3 linked regions of the Homo sapiens genome follow. The protein of the gene in region 1 interacts with the protein of each later gene in a pairwise test. Each region holds a gene or a part of one and is shown in the gene's direction. Other genes may lie near its edges.

The links.
Region 2: the proteins of ARRDC3 (region 1) and UBE2E3 interact in binary tests that used the Homo sapiens proteins (3 or more experiments, as listed by UniProt).
Region 3: the proteins of ARRDC3 (region 1) and ITGB4 interact in binary tests that used the Homo sapiens proteins (3 or more experiments, as listed by UniProt).

The regions. Positions count from the first base shown.
Region 1 is NC_000005.10:91,372,616-91,380,555, reverse strand, and holds part of ARRDC3 (arrestin domain-containing protein 3), read left to right. Parts: exon of another isoform or gene 1-209; intron 210-458; exon of another isoform or gene 459-1,108; intron 1,109-1,780; coding exon 1,781-1,862; intron 1,863-3,787; coding exon 3,788-3,935; intron 3,936-4,942; coding exon 4,943-5,045; intron 5,046-5,377; coding exon 5,378-5,634; intron 5,635-6,279; coding exon 6,280-6,442; intron 6,443-6,679; exon of another isoform or gene 6,680-6,717; coding exon 6,718-6,872; intron 6,873-7,940. UniProt on the Homo sapiens protein: Adapter protein that plays a role in regulating cell-surface expression of adrenergic receptors and probably also other G protein-coupled receptors.
Region 2 is NC_000002.12:180,982,975-180,990,914, forward strand, and holds part of UBE2E3 (ubiquitin-conjugating enzyme E2 E3), read left to right. Parts: intron 1-1,068; coding exon 1,069-1,119; intron 1,120-4,363; coding exon of another isoform or gene 4,364-4,420; intron 4,421-7,940. UniProt on the Homo sapiens protein: Accepts ubiquitin from the E1 complex and catalyzes its covalent attachment to other proteins. In vitro catalyzes 'Lys-11'- and 'Lys-48'-, as well as 'Lys-63'-linked polyubiquitination.
Region 3 is NC_000017.11:75,730,829-75,738,768, forward strand, and holds part of ITGB4 (integrin beta-4 isoform 1 precursor), read left to right. Parts: intron 1-46; coding exon 47-136; intron 137-417; coding exon 418-540; intron 541-983; coding exon 984-1,145; intron 1,146-1,334; coding exon 1,335-1,411; intron 1,412-2,661; coding exon 2,662-2,864; intron 2,865-5,222; coding exon 5,223-5,326; intron 5,327-5,459; coding exon 5,460-5,558; intron 5,559-5,736; coding exon 5,737-5,866; intron 5,867-5,908; exon of another isoform or gene 5,909-6,393; intron 6,394-6,493; coding exon 6,494-6,616; intron 6,617-6,709; coding exon 6,710-6,816; intron 6,817-7,940. UniProt on the Homo sapiens protein: Integrin alpha-6/beta-4 is a receptor for laminin. Plays a critical structural role in the hemidesmosome of epithelial cells. Is required for the regulation of keratinocyte polarity and motility.

The DNA.
Region 1 (7,940 bases):
GGCCCGAGGAAGAAGGAAAGTGATTCCAATATCGAAATGTTGGGGGAGGGGGGGGCTTCGACGGGTATCCTCTGCCCCCTCCCCCATCGTTTTCCGAAGCCTTCGGGCCCCCGCCTCCCCTTCGCCACCCCAATATCCCTTGCCGAAACTAAAGGTGTCAGAGTGGCCCGAGCCAGATGGAACCGGTCGCCGGCTGGGGCGTGTAAAGCGGAAGCGCCGCGGCTCGCTCGCCCCGCCCCCCGGCCAGCAGGCTAGGTTGCGCGGGCACGGGCGCGAGCGCCGCGCGACGTATGCCGTATGTATAGCGGGGCGCGCGGGCGGCAGCGGCGGCGGCGGCGGCGCGCGGGCAGGCCGGCTGGGATCTGCTCGCGCCGGTTTAGGCCGGTCCTCTCCTGCTCCGGTCTAGTTCTTGATTGACAGCCCGGCACTTGTTTACCACGGCGCGGCCGCCGCCGCTCGCTTCAATGAGACTGCTGAGCTGGCACAAAAAGGGAGCGAAGAGGGAAGAAAGGGAAAGGAAGGCGAACTTCGGGCGCCTTCGAGGGGAGCGAATTTAAATGGCCCCCAGCTCATCAGCTAGTTTTTGGTTCTGAAATCCGTTCAGGGGAATTTGCACAGGGGACGAGGAAAATTGTATGGAGACATAAGCGAATCACCATGATTTTTAAATGAAAGTATCGACGTATACATGCTTTTTTCCCCCTTTTTCTCGTTTAATATCAGGGAGGCATCACGTTTTTTGTGTATATCCAATACTTTGCTGAAGGAAAGTTAAATAATGTGCCAGTTTTTTCTACTCTGGGGGCTAATCGTAAAGGTTTCTACACCAAGAAAACTTTAAAAGATATTTCTGTAATTATTTAAAACGCTAAATAGGCACTTTAATGATCTAGAACCCCCTCCCATATTTTCGATTATATTTATTTTCATGCCACTTGAAAAAAAATAATTTCACCAAAAAAATTGGTTGTAAAATGAAAGGTCATCCCTTTTTTATAGAAACTGGAAACTATTAATAGTTAGACTTCATTTTTTTCAAGGATGTTGGAAAATATTGTTTCCTTATAAGCCGACACCACCTAAATGCGGTTCTTTGTAATTATCTAAGGTATAGTTTATGCAAGTTTTAGTCGTTGCTAGGACCAACTGAGTGTTGTGATCATTTTAGATCAATAAATAATTATTTTTAGTTCAATAAATAATTATTTTTAGTTATAAATCTGACATTAAAATCAATGTGTGGCTTTTTTTTTTTTTTTTTTTACTCCGTCTATTTGACAAGGTTTTCTAGTGGTTTTGGAGTATCTATTCTATTCACATCTGGTATTATTATTCCCTATAAACTGACATATTTTAAGAGGGTTGCATGAACAGTTTTTCTTTGATACATTATAGTCTTAATGTGATAAATTTAAGCAAACCGTTGGAGACAAAGGATAGCATTGTCTTACCATGATGTGAGACCCGAGCCTTTTGAGTATATATACTATTTTATAAACAGATGCTTTGCAGTTTGGGTCATTTTCCATTAGAAAAAATAAAAAGCCTGTGGGGTGTGAGTATTCATTATCCCCATTTTACAGATAAGGCAGCTGACGACAGGATTTTTATTTTGTCCAGAGGAAATGATGAAGTTAGAATTAGAACTCAGATCTCTCAGACTCCAAAGCTTGTTTTGTGGTCTTAATTGTTATGTAAGCATCTTTAAAGTTATGCCACCCTGCGGAGTATGTAAATGTTGAATAATAAATTCTTTGTTTTCTTTTTATGTTTGTTTTAGATGATGATAATTCCGAAGAAGGCTTCCACACTATTCATTCAGGAAGGCATGAATATGCATTCAGCTTCGAGCTTCCACAGACGTAAGTATTATAAATAATAGGCATTTTTATAGATACTTATGATCAGAGCATTATTTTAAAATTAAGTATTCTAAATTTAAACATTTTTAGTTGAAAAAAAAACCCTTTTCATTACTGAAACTTGCTAGAGGAAAACAATATATTAAACATAAGAAGCTATTTTTTAATCTAGCGTGGCAAAATTATAGAAAGCATACTCAATTTTCAGTATTCTTTCCTAAAGTTTATGAGGTTTTTAAAATAGGAATAGGGTTTCCTTTAACATGAGTGAATTGGAAGTTGCTAGTCGAATAATAACCACTTTATACTTAGTTTATTATCAATTATCATTATGAGAAAAGATAGACCCTATCAAGTCTTAGTAGCTTCAATTTATAAAAAATTCTATATTCTACTTTTTCTGCTAATACTAACCAATAGCAGTAAGTTTCGAAAATAAAAATAATTAGGAATATCCTAACTTTAGAAATGTTTTTCTTCTGATATGAACTTAATAGCTTCTGTACAAAGAACTATTGGGAAGGTCACACAAGAGATATGACCCAGGCTTAAAAGGAAACATGCATCAAGGATACATTAATATAAAACTTGGAATCTAGTAAGAAAGGAAAAAGGAAAGTGGTATATTCTTAAAGTAATGACAGATTGTTGGAAGAGATGATACAAACTTTTTAAAAAAAAATGCCTTTTAACAAATATTAAAACCTGCAAAATGGCACTTGTGGTGATTATTCTGGAGAATAAACAGATTACATAAGATTTTGTCAGGTGACAAATGTACATTAATTCTGCATTTGTTAATTCTAGTGCTTGAGATGTTATATATAGAGAGAGAAGTCATAAATGGTATTTTTTAGAAAATTCTATTTACTGTATTATTTGAGAATTTTATTTGGAATATAATGCCCTCATCTAATTTCTGAGAAAAATATTAAAGTCTGTTGATAGAATAAGGCCAATATGGGGCCTGAGTATTTTCAGCGTCATTTAATGTTAAAGTTCTATCCATAAACCAAAGTCATTTAACATAAATTTTGGATAACTATTAGCATACAGTTTAAGATTTTATTTCTCTGCTATACAAGTTAATGTGGGAGTCTAAAATGCAAAAAAAAAAAAAAATTATGAAAACACCAGTGTTTCTTATGCTAATCTAAGCTAGCACTCTTGTAAATAACTGAACATTGAGTATTTTACTAATGAAATTATGAAAAAGATACTGAACTTGCTAAAATAAAACCTTCCACAAGTAAAATCTGACAGAGTTAAAAAAAATTTTTTTTTATTCTCTTGACATAGATCAAGAGGACTATATCTTTTTCTTTTGAAGCCCGTAAAGTTAGAGAACAGCCAAACAAGAATTAGAACATGAGTAAACTGAGAGATACAAAAGTAGTTTTTCAGTAAACTTAGGAAATGTGAAATTTTTGAAACTATAATGACTATTCCAGGCCTTTTCTAGACCTTAGTTAGTTGCTATTAAAAGATGATAATTCCCGGCTAATGAGAAGTGGAGTACTATAGGGAATTTGGTCTGAATGTTTAACCAGTGTCTAGAATTTATCAGTAGAAATAGTTAAACCATTCTCAACTTTGTGTTTGAATTCTTGGCCTTTTCAAAAAATGCCCATTAAACTTTCATGATTTTGCCACCATCATTAAAAGTAGCCTCCTCTTAGTTTAAATGGATTGTATTCTTCTGGCTTTTTAAAGCAAAATTTTAAAGATATTTATTGTTTATTCTTAGTTGGAAATAGGAAGTTTTTTCCCCAGTGACTTATCCCTTTGGAAATTTTTTAAATTATATGTTTGATACCTCATTGGAACATAAACAATACAATATATTAACACTTCTATTCTGACCTACTGTGTAATTGTTAGAAAGAGGTATAAAATTAATATATTGACCTTTATATTCTGCACAGACCACTCGCTACCTCATTCGAAGGCCGACATGGCAGTGTGCGCTATTGGGTGAAAGCCGAATTGCACAGGCCTTGGCTACTACCAGTAAAATTAAAGAAGGAATTTACAGTCTTTGAGCATATAGATATCAACACTCCTTCATTACTGGTAAGAATTGACTGAATTATTTATTCTTTGTTTTTGGCATATAAATATTAAAGAATAATCAATCACCTAAACTATGCAGTTGTCATAATTTAAAAATACTGGTTTTCTTTTAAAATTTCATAAATATACATTTTCTTAAATACAGTCAAGAACACTGAAATTAATGAAAAATATGCTCATATTTTTGACATTGTAGTATACCTTTAAGTAAATATAAAACTAAGACCAGTATATGATATGAAGTATCTCTTACTCAGAGTATGACAGCCATAACAAAAAACAGATCTGGTCCTTGGATGATTTGAGTGGAAGAAGAGCAGTAGTATCTTTTATTATAATACAATATCACTTACTTGACAATATCATAATCTAAAATTTGTACTATACTTTGTTATTCCAATAGAGGGATAGTTGTCAAATAATGGGGAATCATTAGTTTCATTAAAAAACTCCTTTTTTAAAGAAATCTATTTTTAATTGCATTTGTCTGAAAATAATTCAAATTTGACTTAAAACTTTATTTGATTTAAACAAATGGTAACATCTTTAAAGCACATAAGAAATGGGCATTTTCCTTTTTTACATATTGATTTTTTAATAGTCTCAGAGAAAGATGTTAACATTTGGAATTATAATCAGATTGCTTTCTTTGCTGCCTTTTTAAGGCAGTTTAAATGGAATGTGGAAAGGGTTTTTTTTATTTGGTTGGTTTTTGATTACTATATTTGTAAATAGTGTGAGCTAAAAAACTATGTTTATGGGATAGGCTGTAAACCCTTTACCTTTTTTTTCTAATTGAATGGAAATTTATATGAAAATAAAAGTAATGGTATAATTCAAAACCATCGGTTAGTTAAAAAATAAGAAGTATGTCTGGATACAAAAAAAAAGCAAAACCAGTTGTAATTTTTAATTTTCCATAAATTTAGGGTTATATTTTAAAATATTCTGGTATTGATTGTACCAATCCATACACTGACCTTTTTCTCTTAATTTTTTTCTTACAGTCACCCCAAGCAGGCACAAAAGAAAAGACACTCTGTTGCTGGTTCTGTACCTCAGGCCCAATATCCTTAAGTGCCAAAATTGAAAGGAAGGGCTATACCCCAGGTATGTAAGAGGTAGATTCCCACAAAAAACTTTTCTTCACTTAGCTTTTGTGTTTAAATTTATAATATGACTACTAAATATAAACATAATATAGTATTCTTTTGTGAAATAACAAATTGTGCTTATCCATTTGTTTTTTTCACAAAGTAGAATGTAGTTTCCTTTTTCAAATAGCTACTGATTAGTTCATTTCTATGACTCAAGTTATTTGCAGTTCCTGGGACATCTTTTCATGTATGTTAGTTGCACTTTCTTACTTTAGCTTTAAGAATCTTGACTTCTTTTGTTGTTTTTTTCTAACAGTAGATATGTATATATTTTTCCCTCTCTAGGTGAATCAATTCAGATATTTGCTGAGATTGAGAACTGCTCTTCCCGAATGGTGGTGCCAAAGGCAGCCATTTACCAAACACAGGCCTTCTATGCCAAAGGGAAAATGAAGGAAGTAAAACAGCTTGTGGCTAACTTGCGTGGGGAATCCTTATCATCTGGAAAGACAGAGACGTGGAATGGCAAGTTGCTGAAAATTCCACCAGTTTCTCCCTCTATCCTCGACTGTAGTATAATCCGCGTGGAATATTCACTAATGGTATGTACACATTTAAGAGGTTTTTTCCTTTCTTTTTTCTTTTTTGAAACACCTGTCACCCAGGCTGGAATGCAGTGGCACAGTCTCAGCTCCGCTACAGCCTCTGCTTTCTGGGCTCCAGTGATCCTCCCACCTCAGCTCCCAAGTAGTTGGGACTACAGGTGTGCCTATAGCCATGCCTGGATAATTTTTGTATTTTTTGTAGTGATGGAGTTTGACCATGTCGCCCAGGTTGGTCTTGAACTCCTGGGCTCAAGTGATCCATCCACCATGGCCTCCCAAAATGTTGGAATTATAGGCATGAGCCACAGTGCCTGGCCCAAGAGGTTTTTGGTGTTTTTTTTTGTTTTGTTTTTAAGTCTTAAAGTTATGACATAGTTTTGTCTTACATCCAGGATTTGATTTTTTTAAATTCCATATATAGTGACATATAAAATACATAACTCTTTATATAGTTTGACTTACAATTATACCTTATATGTAAATGTACTATACAGAATTATACATAAAAGAGAAACTTTTCATGTATGTAAGTTTAAAAATGAAGTAAATGGGGGTTTCAAATAACATTAAAATTGGTTATGAGTTTTTGAAAAGGAAATCATACTTGGCATTCTAAACTTAATATTTCTTTGCAATGTTTAGGTATATGTGGATATTCCTGGAGCTATGGATTTATTTCTTAATTTGCCACTTGTCATCGGTACCATTCCTCTACATCCATTTGGTAGCAGAACCTCAAGTGTAAGCAGTCAGTGTAGCATGAATATGAACTGGCTCAGTTTATCACTTCCTGAAAGACCTGAAGGTAATTTGATAATACACGTCTAAGCTTAATCTCTTACTACTATTATCAAGAAAATTATTTTGCCTCTGATATTTTATGACCCTAGATGAACATAATCTTTTCCTAAAGAAAGTAGATGTGCCCCTAATATTCAGTTTTGATTATATGTCTTCATAGTTTTGATCACCAAACAATAATTATTTTACCTTGACGTTGCTTTTTAATACCTACTATTCTGTGTATTTTGACATGCATAAGAACATGCTGTTCGAATTGCGTGTATCTTTTTCCTTCAGCACCACCCAGCTATGCAGAAGTGGTAACAGAGGAACAAAGGCGGAACAATCTTGCACCAGTGAGTGCTTGTGATGACTTTGAGAGAGCCCTTCAAGGACCACTGTTTGCATATATCCAGGAGTTTCGATTCTTGCCTCCACCTCTTTATTCAGAGGTAAGTACCTACTCCTTAAGTATGAAATGAACTGGCTATCTTGGGAAATAGCATTGCAGGCATTTTTTTTTCTTAATGTTATTAGATCTTGATTATCATGTTAACAGAACAAATAATTTAAAACAACAGATTAAAAGTTAATATTAGGTTCATCAATATTTACTAAGTTTGATGCAGAGGTAGGACTGTTCACTTATTAGGGAATTAAGATAATGATCTAACCTCATGTTGAATTACTAATTTTTTTTTCTCTTAAACTTTTATCTTGAGACACATTTTTTGAAGGAAGAATTTTGTATATCCAAGCATCAATAGGAAGAACTAGCATTTTGCAAACACTGATTAAATAGTAGAATTTATCTTATTCATGATGCTTTTCCAATTGCATATTTTGACATTCTCAGTCATAAGAAATAATGTATTTGTGATAACATCTTAAAACAACATTCCCACATGGTTAGACTATTTTCGTTCATCTCATATTGATGGCAGCTAAGCACTTAAATGTAAATAAAACATGGCCCTTAGGAGAAACCCACAGATTACTGAGGAAAACAAGCTAAGAAGCAAAATATTATGTAATAATGTGATAAAATGCACAGCTCATTTGAGAAGCAGCTTATTAGGTCTTGGGCATCAGGTGGGGCTTCTTGAAAAGGTGACTATTAAGCTGAATTTTGAAGAATGAGTAGTCCTCAAAAGGCAGGAAGAACAGTGTATGTAAAGACAAGGAGTGAGTAGGTGGGGTGTCCAGTAATTTCAGGATATTTCAGAGTGACTTTAGCCACTAGTACACATTTTTAAGGGGTTTTGGAGTTGGTTTTGATACCAAAATAATTCTGTAAATTACTAGAATCAGCTTTTTCTTTTGGTTACTGTAATTTACATAGCTGTTTTACTCTGAAATATTACTCCCAAATTAAACATTAGGGGATTGTTCATCATATTTCTCTTTTTTTTTATTAACACCATAACTGGAAGGGTCAGTTTTCCTTTGGTTGTGATGATATGAGATCTTCTTCATTCATTGATTATAGAATATTCAGAATTATTGATGAGACATAATTT
Region 2 (7,940 bases), on another chromosome or scaffold:
TGAAAGATCATTTGTTTCCTATTGATTGATGTTTTCTGATGGAGAAAAAAAGATTCTGTCAATGAGACTCTTATCAGTGGTAGTAGTAGTGGAATATCCACAAACTCTAGTAATTATACATAAAATGTATAATGTTTACAGCATTAACCAATTTTGACATTTTGTTAATTTTTATTGATAACTAAAGGAAAAAGAATATAAAAACTGATCAAATATTGCATTCTGTGGTGATTCATAAATACTCATATTTTTCTATGGATTTTCACCCTTATTGTCTCAGTAATGAAGTATTAATAACTTGATAATATTTTTGAATGGCAGCAGTCTTTGACATAATTTAAAATTCTCAATTTGGTATAGTGTTGATGCGGAACATATTAGACACATCTAAAGTTTTGAAATCATCTTAAATTTGAATCAAATCAGAGAACTGCTTTTCTCCCCCTTAACTCAGGCCTATGTATTTTCTCCTCTTTCTCTCAATGTTTATTAAATTTAAGTGCTGTACCTAAAATCAGGGAAAACAGAAATGGTTAAATTAGAATGTCAAGTAGTCTTTGAAAGTTTTTCACAAGTAAAGATATTTGTAAATTTTAAACTTTTTTTTTGACAGATAAAATATTGTCAGAACTGTTAATGTGCTCTTGCAGTAGCCTGTTAATTTTTACCTCAGTAAAAGTCACTTCAAGTCCTTGTCAAATATTCCAGTGCTTTCCCTCCTCCCTTTTTGTCTCATTTGCATATAAGCTTGAAAAGAGAATTTCTTTGGTAAAAAGTGTTTTGAAATAGATATTATATTCTTTACTGAGTACTAGTGGATGAGTATTTCTCCAATCAAGTGTAAATGACTTACTTGTTTGCAGCAGCAAGTGAGAAAAAAAGCTGCAAAGTTTCTGTTAAGGGATTTGGGTTATGCCTCTGAGAACAAAGAGGAAGCAGCCATGTTAGCATTACTGAAGGCAGAGCCAGCCTTGCATTTAACTGCATGGTGGTAGAGGGCAGTGTAATTCCCTGGTTATTCTGTAGACTATATCAAATCCTTTTTGTCTCTTCTCATTTCACTAACAGAATTCAGAAGGAGCTAGCTGAAATAACCCTTGATCCTCCTCCTAATTGCAGGTAAGAAATGAATTTTGTTGTTTTGGTTTCAAATTGTGGAAAAATACCAAGAGATTGATGTATTGTCTGGATATGTGTGCAGCAGAGGAGACAACATTTGCTTCTTTACAGCTTTGCAAGTGCATTAAACAAAAATTGTAGAAGGTGAACTAGATAAAATTGGGAGAAAAAATACTTTTTAGCATAAGTATACATTGTGGATTTATGAATATACTGATTTTGTGCTTCTGATATTCATATGAATGGTGCTGATTTTTGTTCTGATGTATTTCTGTAGAGGGTGTTTTTTCAGAAGTATACTGAAGAAACTTCTAAAATTTTGCTAAGCTTTAAAGTTACTGCTTGTGTGTGCAATCTGAACTGACCTTCCACATTTAGAAATTGCTGAATGTGGTGTTACAAAATGTAAATGCAGTAAATAAGCATATAGTTGGTTCTGTTTGATTTATTCAGTTACTAGCCTTAAGGACAAATTTTATGGGCTAAGCTAATGGTTTTAGTGGTCGTTTTCTACAGAATGCATTGTTGGAATTATTTACGTTTTAAGCAAATGTCCTAATTGCTTGGGAACATTTTTAGTAATTTTGGTGGTTGGAATATGTGTATGAAAAGCAGTAAATGAATTGGAATTGTGGGAATTCATTTTAGTGGAACTCAGGTAGATGAATTTAAGATTATTGGTTGGTATAAGATACATTAAAAGTAGCTGGTTGATTATTTTTTCTCTAATAATTTTTTTCATTTCATTTGTATAGCGCTCTATTCTTTTTTTAATGACTATGGCTTACAAAATTGAACACGCATAGAAAACAATATTGTAGATAGTTTGTGAAGAGATATGTGCTCAATAATGCGAGTGGCTGCAAGGAATTAGGCAGTTTTATGGTTTGATAGGACAATGTTTTCATGTTTAACCTGTATTTTTGCTACAAGTTGTATTCACTTGGGATGATCAGACCCTGTCTCTGAAGTCTGCTTGTGATATAATAGGGTATAATCCAGTTGCTTCTTATTGTGTATGTTAACTGGATCCTCAGATAAGGTGATTTGATCCTGATTTATCCGATGAATGAACAGTTTGCTTGTATTTGTAATTTCAGTTCAAACAGGAAACATGAATGTAAACTAATTTTAAGGAGATGGTGGTATGTGAGATCTCAAAGTATTACTTAAGAGCTATGCTGTCCGGTAATGTAGCCACTTGCCACATGTGGCTATTGGCCTCTTCAGTTGTGGCTAGTCCAAAATGAGATGTGCTATAAGGGTAAAATTTATACACATTGGATTTTAAAAACTTAGTACAACAAAAGGATGTATAATACTGCATTGACTTAAAAAAAGTTCATTAATATTAAAATAATATTTTGGATATATTTGGCTATATAAAATGTTAAAATTAATTTCACTTTTTTACTATGTTAATATGTTATTAGAATATTTAAAATTACGTATGTGACTTGCATTGTATTTCTATTGAACAGTGCCGCTTTAGAGAACAAGTAAATGAAAGTATTTTCCCTCCAGCCTTCTAAATGGTGTGTCAAATCTGTAGCCATTTAGGGAGGTCAAGTTAAATTTGCTCCCTGGAAGAATCACTTAACTTGCAGAGTGTATTCTGATATTTCCCATTATGAAAAATGTAAAGATCTATCAATTCAGAACTCTTAAATGTTTTAAAATTGCATGTAGGGTCAAACATTTTTAAAGGTTTCTGTTGATTGTCTGCAAATGAAACAAACTAATGTACGTGCATAAATCTAGAGAGCCTAGTAGACATGTATTAAGTGCCCTCAGAGCAATAGCCTAGTGTTGCAGTTGCCAAAGAAATCTACTTTACATGTTTAACTCCGGAATGTTTCCTCAAGGTCACTGAGGATTATTTTAGAGGGAGTAGAATCTTTCAATGAGATAGGAGGTTTCACTTGTCTTTCTCTTTATATACCAGATTTCATTTAAGTCCTTGAAATAATGCTTCCTCATTTAGTGATCAGACTAGTGAAACATCAAAACTTTGGGCTTTCTGTGAACAGTAACATGGAACACCTCATCCCTGCTTTCCCTTGTCACAACCTGTGATGACTATCAACTGCTGCAAATGACATCTTTCAGTTCTCAGGTTCTTTTAATAGATGAGTTTATGTGTGGCTGTGGTATGTGAAAAACAGACATACAGTATGTCTTAGTAGGGAACCAGGATAAGTGGTTTCTTATTATTTGGAGGCAGTGTTTTACCATATGCCTCACATGTAAAATATCCAGATACTTTGTCTTCAAATTCTTGTGGGTGGAAGAAGACCTAGTTTTTGTCCTTGAGTAGGAATTGGAATACTGAGTGTTTAGTAAAGGTGTTTTAGAACTTTGACAAATAAAAAGCCTGAATTTGTATTGTATTTTTGCCTTCATGTCAGATCTGTGACAGACTGTGGTGTTATGTTCTTTTAATTGACAAGTGCGTAAATGAGAATTTTAGCTTTACGGTGATTGTACAGTTTAAATTTATTAATTTATGCTATAATTAAAAATGGAATCTATATTCATAAATTCTAGAATATGTGAATTCATATTGCCTGAGATCTATGAAACCTAATACATTTGGCTTTCGTGTGTAGTTATTTAATCAGAATTCCATTACAGTTTTGAATATGATTTTTACAAGCTTGTCAAAGTACATGACAGATTTAATTCTTCCTCAGGGAAGAAATGTAAAGTATATCTGTGTACATTCAGGAAAAAGTTGAATGAAACACAAGAAAACTCAGCAAAACCAAAATTATTCAGACTGGGATGATTTCTCTAAAATCCCTTCCTGTGTTTTAATTAATGAAATATTCTTTAATTAGTATATAGTTATGTCTAGTACATACATACCCAGGGTGATCTTAAGATAGATTTAATTGAATTGTGTATGGCTTTATACATGTTTTAATATATTTTGATAGCATTGATATTTCTTTTCCCGATAGTGTAAAAGTTTGATAATGACGTTATTTCCAGTGATTTGATGTTATTTTAAATGGTTTTAGGTATTGGAGGGCCATGGGCCATAGTGTACTAAACATAGGGATATGTTTATTTATTGGTTTCAGTTTATGCTGTTTACATAAAGTATAAATAATTTATACATCAATGAGAGTCAAGGGAAATTGTGTTATGGGCATTTCCCTATTTGTATTTATTGAGAATTGTTGACTAGAATTGTTTAGTGATGTGTTATTAAGACATTTACTTTCCATCTGTTTCCCAGAGGGTGTCCTTGTCCTCTCCTAGTCACCACTTGTGCAAACAGCGAAAGTTTAGAAAGGTACTGGATTTCTAACTTAACCCCTAATTTCTTTCCATATAGGAAGAAGCACAAATATACTGACGAATATTTTAAGAGTGTATGTTCAGATTGAATCTATACTGGAGATATTTGGGGGTATTTGTATTAATAAATAGTTTCTTGATGTGGGAAAGGCCATATTGGGGGATATGTATTACAGTTTCAAGTTAATAGTATTAATATATTGACTAGCAAAACCTGAGATCAGGTGATTTCGTTGACTTTCTTCTTTAAAAATAAAAAAATAATGAAATCATAAAAGAAGCAGTTGTTTCTAAACCAGTAGTTGATAATCTCTAGATTCCTCATTAGCCTAATTGTCTGAGGATAAATTCTGCTTTCTTCTGAGGGTTGCTACCACTTTCCATCATTTTCTAGGGCGGACTAGAACTTTGCTACTTAAAAGAGTGAGCTGCTGACTGTCAGCATCTGCGTCACAGATGAGGTTGTTAGAAATGCAGACTCTTGCTTCCCCCAACCCCCAACCCAGAATTTGAATTTAACAAGATTCCTGGTGAATTGTATATATAAGTAGGTTTGAAAAGTGCTGGTACTGGAGCAAGACTGTCTGGTTTCAGATCCATGCTCTGTCACTAACTTGCTATGTTATTACCTTAGATACATTTTGGAATATTTCGGTTCTTCTCCTCAGTTGTAAAGTGGGGATTAAAATGATACCCCCCTTTATAATAGGGTTATTGTGAGGATTAAATGACTTAATGTGTTTAAGTTTTGTAGCAGTGTAAATCGAGTCAGTAAAGTGGCCACAGCAAGATAAAAATGGGAGAGACAGTGTAGCCTGTAGTGATGTGCTCTCACTGTTGCTGGCATTTTCTCTAGTGCATTGACATCTTATGTAATTTTATCTTAGTCAGTTCACCAGATAATTGAGTACAAGTACATAACAAGCAATTTGTTTTTTAATGTCAGTAAAAGCAGTTCCTAGGAACTTGCGTAAAAAAGAAAATTAGCCTAAAAACTTCAGGCATAGATGAACAAATATTGTATTCCTTTTAAAGGAACATGCATAAGATTAATGATATTTAATTCAATAGAGAATATTATGATTGTCCAGTAAAGTATAATAAACAATTTTTAGATGAGTAATGATTATATTTTCCCCTTTTAAAATAGAAGAATTTGTGATTTTACTGTGAATGGGATTATATCAGCAGTTGTAAAATTCACATTCTGGATTGCTGTTACCTGCATTACCTAACCCCATAGCATTCTTTCCATGTCTGTGAACTAAGGAGAAATTTTGAAAGCTTTTTTCTAATTGGCGTATGAAAGCAGGTAATAATTGAAATAACATGTGATCCCTATATTAGCTTTGTTGGTTGCTTATAGAGTACTTGGTTTTAAACTCTCTCACACATGTAGATAGACTGCTTTTTCTTCTTTACTTAATACATTTGATTGTTTTTGTTTTAGTGTTTGCTACAAGATTGTATCTCATTAGTTATCTAGTCCTTTTATTTTCAATTCTTCAAAAAAAAAGGTCCTGGAACCCGCTTTTTATAAAAATTAAATCTTAATTGGAAGCTCGACTGTAAAACAGATAAATACAGAACTACTCTGACAAAGTATTTTTCATCCCATTATGCCGTGGGTGGTCATCTACAGATAGTTTGTATTATTAGTTTTATTGTTAATAAATTCATTTTGGCATCAGCATAAACCTCAAAAATCATGAGGGTTTTTCTGGGGACTTGGGCGTTAGTGATAATTTTAAATGGTTTATGATCAAAGCAAATTGACGTTTTATTTTTCAACAAGCTAATAGTTTCTTCAACACAACTGTAATAAAGTACTTTTTTCATGCTGTATTATAATATTTGTCTGCTTTCTGCAAGAGCGAGTGTTCCTTGAATGGAGAGATTGTCTCATTCATTTTTGTATCTTTTCCTTACTTCACATGGTGCTTTGCATGTGAAGGTCTGTTAATAAATAAATTGAAGTCTCTCAAATTGACATAGAAATAGCAATTCCAGGCAAAACAATGACTTCAGAGAAAATTTATTAAATATCCTATACATTCTTTACCTTTTTCATAATTATGATACTTAATATTTAATAACCTATTCAAAGTTTACCTAGCTACTGTTTTTGCTTATAAGAGGAAATTGATACTCACAGTAGGCCTAGTTATTTCCTCCATACGTGCCAGTGTAGCAGAAATACTCAGTACTCTGTGTGACTGGAAACATTTTCCAAAAGAGTGACCAACTGAAAATAATATTCTTCCCACTAAACTTCACATTTTTATTAAGGATCTATTAAGTTCAATGCAGATAATGTAATTAGAAGGTGGGTAAAACAGCATGTGCTTTTAAAAAAAGTTATATGTTTACTTCGCAGCTACATGCTCACATAACCAGTCATATTCCTCTCATAACCAATTAGTACTTTATGCTCTCCTTAAATGAGTTGCTGTAACAACAGATGGATATGTTTACTTTTCAGGAAAATCAGCAAGTCTTGCATAGAGTGTAAGGACATTCAGATTGAGAATGAAGAACTTGTCCTTTCAGTCTCTTCTTCCCTATCAATATGAGATAAAAACATAATAAAATCACTTGTAAATCTAGAGAAATAGAAAGTGATTTTTTTTTCCACATACCAATTTTGACAGGTAAGTATATTTGGGCATTTTAATTGGAATCTGGAAGCTGAAACATCTTCAAACTTTTAACCTTTCTTTTGCCTTTTGATCAGTGGTTCTCAACTGAGGCAATTTTTGTCCTCCCCTTCCCCAGCCACCAGGCTAGGCGACAATTGGTAATGCCCAGAGATATTTTTTGCTTTTCATAACTGAAGGAGAAGGGGGCTACCACTGACATTAGTAGGTAGACGTCAGTGGTACTGCTGAATACCCTGTAATACATAGGACAGACCCCCACAATAAAGAATTATCTGGGCCAAAATGTCTAGTGCTGAAGTTGAGAGACCCTCCTATAGATATTTGTTCCTGTACTTTGCCTCTTGAATTTTTGAATAGTTTGCTTTTGACTGTTTTCCTGTCTTATTAGTGATGCATCCTTAATATATTCACCTACACCTTCCTCAGCTGATTCTTCACTTCCTGCTACTTCTATGCGTAGTTTACATATGTCTTATATTATTTGTCATACGTGTGTGTTATTTTTTATGTGAAACCACAGGAATGACTACCTTGAGTACTTGCTAAATTATGGTCTTCTGAGGCCAGAAATGCTTACAGCAGTATTTTATTTCTTTTAGGTCTTGTGCCAGTTAATTATATCCCTGCGTGATCTAGCTTTAGGCTGGTTATATCTATTATGTTCTACTAGGAGTACTAAAGTAACATCATGGAGAAATAACATTGGACAGTCATCAAAATTCAGTTTGACATTGAATTACACACAGGTTAGAAATGTGTGCTCTTCATTTGGGTTTTATTTTCATCATTATGACAATACACAAGTTACTTCAATTTTTACAAGTTCACAATCCTTTATTTGAAACCCTTGGGGCC
Region 3 (7,940 bases), on another chromosome or scaffold:
GATTCATGGAGATGCTTAGCCTGAGACCTGGCCTTCTCTCCCGCAGAAGCTTCACACCTATTTCCCTGTCTCCTCACTGGGGGTGCTGCAGGAGGACTCGTCCAACATCGTGGAGCTGCTGGAGGAGGCCTTCAATGTGAGGGCAGCTCAGGCTCCAGAGTCTGAGCCCTTCTGGGGCAGGGCAGGAAGTGGGCAGGGTGGGCAAGAGGTGTCTTGGATCACGGTGGAGAAATGGGTCTGGGACAGACCAGTGAGGAAGGGTCTCTAGCTATCCCTGAGGCCCCGAGGGGCCACCTGGGCCTGGCCCTGGCTCCTGCAGGCTCTGTGATACCCCGCATGATGCCAGCCACACTTGGAGGTTGGGGTGGAGCACAGAGGCCCCCCACAGAGCACTGATCAACCTCCTTCCTCCTTTAGCGGATCCGCTCCAACCTGGACATCCGGGCCCTAGACAGCCCCCGAGGCCTTCGGACAGAGGTCACCTCCAAGATGTTCCAGAAGACGAGGACTGGGTCCTTTCACATCCGGCGGGGGGAAGTGGTACGCCTCTGTGGGGGCAGCGGGGTGGGGGATAGGCACAGCGCCCCACACCGAGTGGAATCGTTTAAAACAGCGGTCAAGAGCGTGGCCCCTGGAGTCAGGCAGGCCTGGGTGCAGATCCCTGGGCCTAGCCGCTCGGATGAGCCTAGGTTGCTCCTCTGCTTGTTGGTTTCCTCGGCATGCAAGCGTCGAGCCCGGAGGCTTGCTGGGGCAGTAAATGGGTTAGTGTCACGAAGCCCAGAGGCCCTGGCCACTGTCATTGTCGCTATGATTGTGACTGCGCTGGGAAGGAGGGAGTTTCCAGCCCTGAGGGAGGTGAGCAGGAGCTCATTTCAGGGATCCAGACATCTCCTAGGAACTTGGGGGCCGAGGGCCTTCAGGCATCGATGGCCCCCTGGTCCTTGGGGCTGGGCCTGCCTTGGCTGACCACGGGGCCCCTGCAGGGTATATACCAGGTGCAGCTGCGGGCCCTTGAGCACGTGGATGGGACGCACGTGTGCCAGCTGCCGGAGGACCAGAAGGGCAACATCCATCTGAAACCTTCCTTCTCCGACGGCCTCAAGATGGACGCGGGCATCATCTGTGATGTGTGCACCTGCGAGCTGGTACAACGCAGCCCCGCAGGGCGGGAGGGGAGAGCTGAGCCAAGCACCCAGGGACCCTGAGGAATGAAGCAGGACTCCTGTGCCCCATATCCCTTGTGGGGTTTCCCGAGGCACACAGGAGAGCGGAAGTGTCCAGTGGCCCCGGTCCTGCTCCCCCGACGCACCCCACCATGGTCTCTCTCATTCCAGCAAAAAGAGGTGCGGTCAGCTCGCTGCAGCTTCAACGGAGACTTCGTGTGCGGACAGTGTGTGTGCAGCGAGGGCTGGTGAGTGGGGAAGGGAGTTGGGCACCCAGGACACCAGTGGCCCCTGATGGGAAAGCTGGGCTCCTGCAGGGGCCTGGCCCTGGGTGCACCTTGTACACCTGGCTGGGGGTGGGGCGGCAATCAAAGAAACGGCTAAGGGCGGGGCACACCCAGTTGTTGGTCAAACCCAGGTCAAAGCACTTTGAAATACAGAGATATATGGGCTGTCTCTAGAAAGAGGTGTGAGGATTGAGACGGGGTTGGCTGTTGGGGCTGGGGTCTGGATCTTGGGGGACAGGCACACGAGGCTTCCTTTTTGCTCCATGCCTTTGGTATTCTGAGTCCTGTGTCATATTGCCTGATCAGAAGAGAGCTCGTAAATGCACGGCAGTAAGGGCTTTAGCTTCAGGACACTGGGCGAGCTTGCCACAACTTGAGGCAGAGCAGTGGGGAAAGGACACTGGAAGGGGTGACATGACAGGGCACTGGGGTTTAGGTCTCAGCTCAGCCACTTCTGTCTGCATGACTGGGAGCTGCCTCGGCCCTCTCAGAGCCTCAGTTTCCTCATCTGTAAAATGGGACAGCAGGCCAGGCGAGGTGGCTCACACCTGTAATCCCAGCACTTTGGGAGGCCGAGGTGGGTGGATCACCTGAGGTCAGGAGTTCAAGACCAGCCTGGCCAACATGGTGAAATCCCATCTCTACTAAAAATACAAAAAAGTAGCTGGGCGTGGTGGTGCATGCCTGTAATCCCAGCTACTCGGGAGGCTGAGGCAGAATTGCTTGCACCTAGAAGGCGGAGGTTGCCGTGAGCTGAGATCGCGCCACTGCACTCCAGCCTGGGCAAGAAGAGCGAAACTCTGTCTTGAAAAAAAATAAAATAAAATAGGCCAGGCGCGGTGGCTTACGCCTGTAATTTCAGCACTTTGGGAGGCCGAGGTGGGCGGATCACAAGGTCAGGAGATCGAGACCATCCTGGCTAACATGGTGAAACCCCGTCTACTAAAAATACAAAAAATTAGCCGGGCGTAGTGGCGGGTGCCTGTAGTCCCAGCTACTCAGGAGGCTGAGGCAGGAGAATGGCGTGAACCCAAGAGGCAGAGCTTGCAGTGAGCCAAGATCGCGCCACTGCACTCCAGCCTGGGCGACAAGGCGAGACTCCGTCTCAAAAAAAAAAATAAAATAATTAAATTAAATTAAATTAAATGGGACAGCAAAAGCCCCAGCTTTCCTCCTGGGCTGTTTCGGGGAATGACCAGTTCCTCCTTCAGGAGTGGCCAGACCTGCAACTGCTCCACCGGCTCTCTGAGTGACATTCAGCCCTGCCTGCGGGAGGGCGAGGACAAGCCGTGCTCCGGCCGTGGGGAGTGCCAGTGCGGGCACTGTGTGTGCTACGGCGAAGGCCGCTACGAGGGTCAGTTCTGCGAGTATGACAACTTCCAGTGTCCCCGCACTTCCGGGTTCCTCTGCAATGGTGAGCACAACAACTGCGGCCAATGCTGATGGCGGGGTAGGGAGTGGACAGCAAGCATGACTTTCCCGTCAGGACCCAGGTTGGGAGAGCCAGACTTGGAATCAGAATCCCCAAGTTCAGGCCCAGCCCACTCTGGATGCCCTGAGGGCCGCCCCTGAGTCCTGCCCCAACCTGGGCCTGACTTCCCTCATCTGTAACGTCCATGCCCAAGGTCACTGTTGGCAGGACTTTCCCCTGGTTTTAAGATTCCAACTCCCCTGAGGTTCTCTCTGGAAGTTCAGTTCTATGCCCACCCCACTTCTCCACACCCCTATCTCATTAGAGTGGGTGCCACCCAGCTCAGCCCTCCAATGGCTGGCAGGTATATGGCATTATGATCTTTCCTCTCTCCAAAGATGCTAAATTTCTGTGGGTTTTTTGTTGTTGTTGCTGCTGTTTTTTTTTTTTTTTTTTTTTTTTTTGAGACAGAGTTTCACTCTTGTCGCCCAGGCTGGAGTGCAATAGCACAATCTTGGCTCACTGCAACCTCTGCCTCCTGGGTTCAGGCGATTCTCCTGCCTCAGCCTCCCTAGTAGGTGGGACTATAGGCATGCACCACCATGCCCAGCTAATTTTGTATTTTTAGTAGAGACAGGGTTTCACCATGTTGGCCAGGCTGGTCTCGAACTCCTGACCTCAGGTGATCTGCCCGCCTCAGCCTCCCAAAGTACACATCTGTAATCACACCTGGGATTACAGGTGTGAGCCACTGAGCCCGGCCCAAAGATGCTAAATTTCTACCTGGAAGGCCTGGAGCTTCCTCTGTATTCCCATGGGTCCAGGCCATAGGCATACAGTCTGGCCAGGAACATCAGAGCTGGGCAGGATCACAGAACTCAGACAAGGGGACATAGGGAAGGATTGGTAGTTGAATGGAGGAGGATGAATGAAAATCTACTCATCAAATACTTATGAAGCCCTCACTGTATACTTTCCAAGCCCCTGCTTTTCTACTCTTTCTTCTGTTCTTGCTTTTGTTCACCATTTCTTCTCTTCGACTGTCTGTCCCTGAGTGTGCTCAGAGAAACAGAAGAGAGAACTGGGCACCACTGGAGAAAGGCAGACAAGTGGCACAGAGGGAGGTATGAGAGAGGAAGGGAGGAAGGTGCCTCTGGGGAAGGAGGCAGGGCCAGAGTACAAAGGGCTTCGGTTCTAGTCCAGAGCAGGACTTCATCCTTTGGACAAAAGGGGGTCACTGGAGGTTTTACTTTCATTTTCTAACTATTTGCATATTAACCTTGTATCTAGTCACCTTGCTAAACGCACTTATGAAATCTAATAATTTGTCTGTAGATTCTTCTGGATACTTTGTGACATGTTCCTCACACTTGCAAATAAAGACAATTTTATTGATTGATTGATTGATTGATTTTTGAGACGGAGTCTTGCTCTGTCACCCAGGCTAGAGTGCAGTGGCATGATCTCAGCTCACTACAACCTCTGCCTCCCAGGTTCAAGCAATTCTCCTGCCTCAGCCTCCCAAGAAGCTGGGATTACAGGGGCCCACCACCAAGCCCAGCTAATTTTTGTATTTTTAGTGGAAATAGAGTTTCACCATGTTGGCCAGGCTGGTCTTGAACTCCTGAGCTCAAGTGATCCTCCCGCCTCGGCCTCCCAAAGTGTGGGATTACAGGTGTGAGCCACCACGCCCGGCTGACAGTTTTATTTCTTTTTTCTTTTCTTTTTTTTTTTTTTTTTTTGAGACGGAGTCTTGCTCTGTCACCAGGCTGGAGTGCAGTGGCGTGATCTCGGCTCACTGCAACCTCTACCTCCCGGGTTCAAGTGATTCTCCTGCCTCAGCCTCCTGAGTAACTGGGACTACAGGCATGCGCCACCATGACCAGCTAATTTTTGTATTTTTAGTAGAGACGAGGTTTCTCCATGTTGGCCAGGATGGTCTCAGTCTCTTGACCTTGTGATCTGCCCGCCTCAGCCTCCCAAAGTGCTGGGATTACAGGCGTGAGCCACCTTGCCTGGACTTATTTCTTACCTTCTAATGCTTATACATCTTATTTCTTTTTCTGACCTTATTGCATTGGCAGGGACCCATTAGAGGTTCTTAGCCAGGGGAGCAGGAGCCACATGATTGGATTTGTTTTGAGATAATTACTCAGGCTGCAGAGTGGAAGGTAGGTAGGATGGAGGCAGAGATGGAGGGAAGGAGATTCCAGGAAAGTGAGGAAGAGATGACTTCTACCCCAGGCTAGCGGCACCCTGGCTCCCACAGCTCTGTTCCCACAGGCCCTCCCTGCCAGGTGGGCAGCCTGGACTACAGGCACAGATGTAGCTCTCATCTCCCTTCCTTGTCCCTCTCTGCAGACCGAGGACGCTGCTCCATGGGCCAGTGTGTGTGTGAGCCTGGTTGGACAGGCCCAAGCTGTGACTGTCCCCTCAGCAATGCCACCTGCATCGACAGCAATGGGGTAGGCCTGGGCATAAGACAGACAGTGTCTGTCAGCACCACCCACCCTCTCCAGAGAGAACCCTATGGAGAGAGGAGAGGGAGCAGGCAGGGATGGGGCACAGCTGGCTCACTGGTGCCCCCTCCTACCCCAGGGCATCTGTAATGGACGTGGCCACTGTGAGTGTGGCCGCTGCCACTGCCACCAGCAGTCGCTCTACACGGACACCATCTGCGAGATCAACTACTCGGCGGTGAGGCTAAGACCTACGAGGTGTGGGCGTGGGAACAGGGCAGGCACAGGGCAGTGTGGGCAGGAGGGGCTAAGCCTGATGCCACAGGAGCTGGCCAAGGGCAAGAGGTTTGGGGAGCGGGGGTCTGGCAGAGGCCCACCCAACACAGTGCCTGTCTGCCCCGCCTTTCCCCGCCAAGATCCACCCGGGCCTCTGCGAGGACCTACGCTCCTGCGTGCAGTGCCAGGCGTGGGGCACCGGCGAGAAGAAGGGGCGCACGTGTGAGGAATGCAACTTCAAGGTCAAGATGGTGGACGAGCTTAAGAGAGGTAGGGGCAGGGGCTGAGGGTTGGGGTTGCTGAGAGCCTAGGCAGCGGGCATCCAACGGGGCAAGGGTGTCATCACCTGGACGGGGGCTTGCAGTCTGGGCTAAGGTCACACAGTCCGGACAGGAACTCCAGAGCTGGGAGGGACCACAGAACCCAGATAGAGGACACCGAATCCCAGAAAAGGGTAAAAGCCTGAGCAGGAGGCACAGAACCCAGGCGGTGGGACACAGTCTGGCCCAGGAAGGGACCAAGAGTCTTGGTGGGAGGCACCTGACTTGGGCAGGGGCATGCACCCAGCAGGGGTACATGGTCACGCTGTGGAGACACGCAGCCTCCCCTCCTCGAGATCAGATACGTTTTCTGGACCCTGAGTTCCTGGGTGATGTCCAGGTCAGGGAAGTGGGGGAGGTAGGTTTCTAGGCTCTGATGCTCCTGAGCAGGGGAGCCCCCACCACACCCGTTCCTGTGCCTGGTGAGAGCACGGCTTTGCAAGGACTTCCACTCTTCCCCAGGAGGCCCTGCCGTGGGTGAGGCAGATCGCAGAGTAGGGGCCCCCTCACCAGACCCTGGGTCCTCTGGGGCGGAGGGGTGTGGCTGGGGTGCCCTGCTGACTGGCTGTGGGTACAGCCGAGGAGGTGGTGGTGCGCTGCTCCTTCCGGGACGAGGATGACGACTGCACCTACAGCTACACCATGGAAGGTGACGGCGCCCCTGGGCCCAACAGCACTGTCCTGGTGCACAAGAAGAAGGGTGAGCTGGTGGGGCCGGGCGCAGGGAGGGGGCGTGTGGCCAGAGCTCGGTGGGGAGGACAGGCACCACCTCCCCCTGCCTCCTCCTCTCCAGACTGCCCTCCGGGCTCCTTCTGGTGGCTCATCCCCCTGCTCCTCCTCCTCCTGCCGCTCCTGGCCCTGCTACTGCTGCTATGCTGGAAGTACTGTGCCTGCTGCAAGGTGAGCACCCAGGGTGCCTCCCAAGGCCCCACATCCCAGGGTCCCCACCCCAACAGGGCCCCCACCCTCCACCAGGGTCCCCAGTCCCCGCCTGAGTTCTCATCTCCCCAGGGTCCCCAACCCCTTCCTGGGTCCCCACCTCCCCAGGGTCCCCATCCCAACAGGGTCCCCATCCTCCACCACGGTCCCCACCTCCCCAGTGTCCTCAACCCCCTCCTGGGTCCCCACCTCACCAGGGTCCCCTCTCTGACAGGGTCTCCACCCTCCATCAGGGTCCTCCTCAGGGTCCCCAACCCCCACCAGGGTCCCCAGCCTCTCCACCCACCATCCCCACTCCTGCAGCTTTCTAGCCAGAGGCTTCAGCCCGTAGAGTCCAGCTGTCTGGATTCTGGTCCCAGCTCTGTGACCTTGGGCAAATTACTTAATCTCTCCATGCCTCAGTTCCCTCATCTGTAAAATGAAGATCATAGAATTGACCTCAGAAAGTGGAGCTGAAGCTTAAATTAGTGAAGTTCAGAAGGGACTGACCCATAGCATGCACCATCGCCCCCACCCCCACCTTGGCAAGACCCACACCAACCCCATCCAGCTTCCGGAGTGACAGTAATGATGATGACACCCATGAGCTCTTAGCCCGAGTCATCCTGGAGCCCCAGCCCCCAGCTCAGCCCTTGCCAGCATCCGTTCTCTGCTTAGCTCAGTGTTCCTCTTTGTGCTGTCGCCACAGCATGTCCACGTGACTCCATTTCCCCGCCCCCCATCACCCCATGAGGTCAGTGGGGCAAGGTCACCATGCCCTATGACAGATGGAGAAATTGGGGCTGAGAGGCAGGTGATAAATGCACAGTCCTCAGAAGGGGCTGAGGCAAGCTGAGCCCACATCTTCCCCAGCTCTAGTGCCCGCCCAGGACCCCCACTCCATCAGCCATCAGTGGCCAGATCCCTGAGAGCACCTGCTCTGGGGTCAGCCACGTGCAAAAGGCCTGGGAGCCACAACAGGGAAGAAAGGGCCCTGCCCGCCCGCAGCTGGCGGTCACTGGGGAGAACAGACAAGAGAAAGCGTGGAGGATGGCATAGCTCAGAGTAGGGATTGTAGGCGGCAGACCACACTCCGTAGTAACCCC